2 separate regions of the Homo sapiens genome follow, and region 2 is linked to region 1. The links come from fine-mapping of genetic effects on gene expression. A gene starts in region 1. The other region holds a variant in brackets. All regions are shown on one strand. Distances are between the middles of the regions. Region 1 holds the start of STK17A (serine/threonine kinase 17a). Region 2 overlaps COA1 (cytochrome c oxidase assembly factor 1).

What was found. PIP is the estimated chance that this variant, and not a neighbour inherited with it, causes the effect. A credible set is the group of variants that fine-mapping cannot tell apart.
Region 2: its variant is the best candidate, but not a certain one, in a credible set for the expression of STK17A in whole blood (INTERVAL, PIP 0.73).

Annotation. Positions count from the first base shown.
Region 1 is chr7:43,581,747-43,584,529 of GRCh38, forward strand. It overlaps STK17A (serine/threonine kinase 17a), which reads left to right and starts at 1,362. Exons shown (of 7, transcript NM_004760.3): 1 at 1,362-1,703. The coding sequence starts at 1,498. RefSeq lists a silencer at 982-1,761 and enhancers at 2,162-2,211, 2,342-2,451.
Region 2 is chr7:43,712,508-43,715,529 of GRCh38, forward strand. The region is part of intron 1 of COA1 (cytochrome c oxidase assembly factor 1); the gene reads right to left. Among named protein-coding and RNA genes, the nearest start is that of COA1, 16 kb to the right of the region's middle. The variant T/C (reference allele first, on the strand shown) is at 1,835.

The DNA.
Region 1 (2,783 bases):
CATGGGAAAAGTGGTGGCTTTCTGAGCTGCCTATCTTTCCAGGATTTCAGTCATCCAAGTCCTTGCTGGGAGAGGAAATTTTTAACTTTTGTCAACTTTTCTATTTTTTCTTAGTGAGAATATTGAACACAAATAAACTAGTATATCAGTGCCAGAAGCAAAACTCCACTGAGACAGTCTGAGTAGAGCAGTGGTGTGATTTGGTTTCGATTTTTAAAAGATCACTCTCATTGCCTTGAAAATGAACTATGCGACATTAGGGAGAAAGAAGGATGGAAGCAGGTGGTCCAGTTAGTAAACTATCACAATAATCCAGGTAAGAGATAACGATGGCTCAGGCCATGGTGGTAAGGTGGAAATAGAGAGAAGTGATCAAACGCCGCATCTAGTTTGAAGGAAAAGACAAGAGGGTTTACTGACAAACTGGAGATGAGCATGAGAGAGGAATCAATGCTCATCCCAAGATTTTTGGCCTGAACAGCTAGAAGGAAGGAGATGAAGAAAACTGAGACGGGGAAAGCTGGGTAGGAGTGCATTCATGAAGACCAATCAGCAACTTACTTTTGTGTATGTTAAGTCTGAGATGCTAATTTGACATGTAAGTGGAGATGCCAAATGCATAGTCAAATACACCAGTCTGAAGTTCAGGGAATATTTGGAAGCTAGAGATACAAATTCTGTAGTCATGAGCATATAGATGGTAATTAAAGTCGTAAGACCGGATGAGAGGACCTCGAAAGTAAATATAGAGACGACTACAGACAATATAATAGTGTCTATTTCATAGGGCCGGTGTGCAGGGTTAATAATATTTATACAACTCTGCCTCCAGACCCCTCTCCCAGTGTACGGAGATCAGGATCTCATCACCCCTCCCCACCACGTGAAGTCCTGCTTACAGCTCAAATGCCTTTTATTAACCGAAGTGCCTCCAGACCCCTCCCCTCCTCACCACGTGAAGTCCCGCTTACAGCTCAAATGCCTTTTATTAACCGAAGGTCAGCTTTTGTGACTCTCAGACGCTCAACAGGTGCGCAACTCTGCTAACGCAGTAGGCTGTCCTGGCCAAAGGGTGGTGCTGTGAGTCGCCTCCAGCCTCCGGGCCGTCCCGAAAGCTGCACCTTCTCCCCCTGAGCTGCAGAGGGCGCGCGTGAGGCATCGGGCGCTCAGGACCCCGCGGGAGCTCAGCGAGGGGGCGGGCGGCCACGGAGTGAGGCCGGGGCGGGGTCGGGCGCGGGGCGGACGTGGGGAGGGGTTGGCCGGGGCCAGAAGCAGGGTGCAGGGCAGGCGCGGGGCGGTCACGGGGGCGGGGCCGGTCGCGGGGCGCGGGGCGGGCCCGAGCTACCGGTAGTCTGCCTGCCGCAGTCCGAGCGCCGCGCTGGGGAGAGCGGGTGTTTGAAGGCTCCGCGGACCGGCACTAGGAGCCGGGGGCGGGTCCGTGACCCTCCGGCTGCTCGGAGTGAACAGGCGGCCAGGAAAGAAGCGGGCCTGAACACCATGATCCCTTTGGAGAAGCCAGGCAGCGGCGGCTCCTCCCCAGGCGCCACCTCAGGCTCGGGCCGGGCAGGCCGGGGTCTGAGCGGGCCGTGCCGGCCGCCGCCGCCGCCCCAGGCCCGCGGGCTGCTGACAGAGATACGCGCCGTGGTGCGCACCGAGCCCTTCCAGGACGGCTACAGCCTGTGCCCGGGCCGGGAGCTGGGCAGGTGAGGACGGGCGGGGCCCGGCGCGGAACCTTCCCGGACGCGCGGGGCGGGACGTGGGCGCCGATAAGTGCCGGCGCCGCGGCGGCGAGGCTGAAGTGGCGTTGCTGCTGCCGATAACGCGCGTTGTGACTTGGCACAAACTTGGGTGCCGACGGCAAGTAGGGCAGCCGAGTCGCACCAGCGCCCCCTCCACGCGCCGCGCCCAGCAAGCGAGTGGTGGTAACTCGATGGCGGTCCCGGAGGCGCGGACACTTTCCTCAGCCCTTTCGTTCTCTGTGGCGTTTCGAATGGCTATTTAACGAGAGAAGGTGCGGGCCGCGCTCTGCCTTTCACCCCGAGCAGCGGGTCTGAAAACCAGAGGTCTGTGGAGCCGACTTTGCATTTTTCCTTCAACTCTTGCGACTTTCTTGGTCTGCCTGTGTGGTTTTAATAAAATACAGCATCCGTTGTGACCGCTTCCTTTGCACCGGCGCTCTGTTACCTTGTGTCGGTCTTCTGCTGAATTCATTTTCGTTTTCTTGGTTGGTTTTCTGCCGTTTTAGTTCTAAAGCATTTAGGTCCCTTTGCTTCGAGTTTAGATTGGTTTCTTTCGTGGGCGCTTGGCCCTTTTCTCGCTTTTTACTTTGCTGGGAACCGATTCTTGCCTTCTCCCCCCACCCCACGCTAGCCCACCCTTTTTTTGTGGGAGTAGAGAGAGCTTACAACTTGGTCTGTAAAGTTGCAGGTGCAGGCTGTTCGGATGCTTTACATTTTGTATGCTGAAGAGGGGTGATCGAGTGATTTTTGTGGGGTTTGGCGACTCTTCCTTGAGAACAGTTTGAAGAAGTTGTTAAATACTCTGGCTTTGGGGGCAGACCTGAGTTCATATTCGTGCCCTTCTTGCTGTGTTTGCCTTTGGAGGGGTTAGACTCTCCAGCCTCACTTTCCTCATCCGTAAAATCGTATAATGATGACAGTACCTACCTCAGAGGTGGCCTGAAGATGCCATGCTTGTCAAGCGCATACCACTGGGCTTGCCACATGGCGTTCAGTAAATGTTCGCATTATTGCCAGCATTTGTCATGGTTGCAAAATAGCACC
Region 2 (3,022 bases), 130 kb after region 1:
TATGTGATCTGGGTTTTTTTCACTCCAGAATCATCTCTTTACCACACGGTGTCCTGAAATTTCCTAATGATGGGCCCCAGTGTGGGTATATTTATTAGACTGAACACATGGCAGGCACATTCAATCTGCAAACTTCAATCTTCTACTGTTGGTCGTTTTCTTGAATTATTTTCACCTTTTCATTTCCCCTATTTTATCTGCAACTCAACTGTATAAACATTGAACCTCAGGAACAGTCAGCTAAGTGTCCTCTGTCTTTTTGCCTACTTCTTAGGAGATTTCCTGACCATTATCTTACAACCTTCCAAAGATTTTCATTTCCACTATCATGTTTTAAACTTTTTTCATTTTCTAGCTGGACTTTTTTTTTTATTGACACATTGTCATTACATATATTTGAGGGGTACAATTTGAGGTTTAAATACATATATATGGTTTTTTTGTCTTGTTTTCTTTTGCTATTTGAGACAGAGTCTCGTTCTGTCACCCAAGCTGGAGTGCAGTGGCGTGATCTCAGCTCACTGCAAACTTTGCCTCCTGGCTCAAGCAATTCTCCTGCCTCAGCCTCCCAAATAGCTGGGATGACAGGATGCACCACCATGCCTGGCTAATTTTTGTATTTTTAGTGGAAATGGGGTTTTGCCATGTTGCCCAGGCTGATCTTGAACTCCTGACCTCAAGTAATCTGCCCACCTTGGCCTCCCAAAGTGCTGGGGATACAGGCATGAGCCACCATGCCCAGCCTCAATACATATATATGTTATATAATGATCAAATCAGAGTATTTAGCATGTCCATCATCTCACGCACTTATCACTTCCTTCTGGTAAGAACACTCAAAAGCCTCTCTTCTAGCAATTTTGCTACAATACCTTACTATTAACCATAATCACCCTTCTGTGGAATAGAATACCAGAACTTATTCCTCCTAACTATAACTTTGTACTCATTTGAACGACCTCTCCCTACCTACCTTCCCCTCTCCCTGCCCAAGTCTCTGGTAAGTTTTATGGCTAGTCCTTTATAGAGCATCCTGTTTTTATTCATCTTCATCTCATCTCTCTGAATATATCTGTAATTGGGGTAGGAGATTGTTGGTAACTGTTTTTTTCCCCTGCAAAGTCTGTATTTCTTCCAAGTTGCTTTTTTGTTTTGCTTAATTCCCACCACCCACCTTTGATGCTGGATGCTTTCCTCAAATAACTGGTAATCCTTGGGTATTTGCTTATGATTAAGACTGGGGGTCTAGAGCTAGGTGCACTGGCTCAGGCCTGTAATTCCAGCACTTTGGGAGGCCAAGGTGGGCAGATCATTTGACATCAGGAGTTCGAGACCAGCCTGACCAACATGGTGAAAGCCTGTCTCTACTAAAAATACAAAAATTAGCCAGGCATGGTGGCGCACACCCATAATCCCAGCTACTCAAGAGGCTGAGGCAGAATTCCTTGAACCAAAGAGACAAAGGTTGCAGTGAGCCGAGATCACACCACTGCACTCTGTTTAAAAAATATATTAAAACACAGATGGCAGGAAAAAAAAATTAGCCAGGCACGGTGGTATGCACCAATAGTCCCAGCTACTCAGGAGGGAGGATCACTTGAGTCCGGGACTTCCAGGTTGCAATGAGGTAGGATCATGCCACTGCACTCCAGCCTGGGTGACAGAGCAAAACCATGTCTCTAAAAAAATTAAAAATAAAAATAAATAGTGAATCATCTTTTTGTAATAGAGTTATACTAAAACTTTAAAAGATTTTCTGTTTAAAAAATAAAGATACAATTATAAACCTATGGCTTATTACTAGTATGAACCAATACAGTATAAAAATTATATA[T/C]TGAGGCTGGGTGTGGTGGCTCATACCTGTAATCCCAGCACTTTGGGAGGCCGAGGAGGGTGGATTGCCTGAGGTCAGGAGTTCAACGCTAGCCTGGCCAACATGGTGAAACCCCATCTCTACTAAGAAATACAAAAATTAGCCGGGTATGGTGGTGCAAGCCTGTAATCCCAGCTACTCGGGAGGCTGAGGCAGGAGAATTGCTTGAACCCGGGAGGCAGAGGTTGCAGTGAGCTGAGATAGTGCCATTGCACTCCAGCCTGGGCTACAAGAGCGAAACTCCATCTCAAAAAAAAAAAAAATTATATATTGAGAAAATGTATAAAAATGATTTGTATCTGACACAGACACGGGATACTAGAAGAAATTAAAAAAGAAACAATAGGGTGGGCACAGTGGCTCACATCTGTAATCCCAGCACTTTGGGAAACCAATGCAGATGGATCACTTGCAGCCAGGAGTTCGAGACCAGCCTGGCCAACATGGTGAAATCTCGTCTACTAAAACTACAAAAAATTTAGCTGGACATGGTGGTGCACACCTATAATCCCAGCTACTCAGGTGGCTGAGGCACAAGATCACTTGAGCCCGGGAGGTAGCAGTTGCAGTAAGCCAAGACTGCACCACTGCACTCCAGCCTGGGCAAAAGAGTGAGCCTCTTGTCTAAAAAAAAAAAAAAAAAAAAAAAAAAGGAAACATTTAATACAAAAATAAATGCCAAATAAAAATCATTCTAAAAACTGAAAGATAATACTGTATTTAGAAGTTATCATTCTTAATATGAAAGCTTGAAACACACCAAGTATTACTTGCCTTTTCCAATAGTCTTGAACTTTGTTTCATAATATTCCTGATACAGGAAAAAATTCATACATTTAACATTGACATTGATCAAATTAATCTGAGTGCATCAAACAGCATCTTTAAATTGAATGTTAAGGGTATGTTGCTTGGTGAAACTCCGTCTCTACTAAAAATACAAAAAAAAATGCCAGGCGTGGTGGCAAGCACCTGTAGTCCCAGCTACTCGGAAGGCTGAGGCAGGAGAATGGCGTGAACCCGGGAGGCAGACGTTGCAGTGAGCGGAGATCGTGCCACTGCACTCCAGCCTGGGCAACAGAGCAAGACTCTATCTCAAAAAAAAAAAAAAAGAGTATGTTGCTTCATATAAGCTTGTTTACCTTCTTA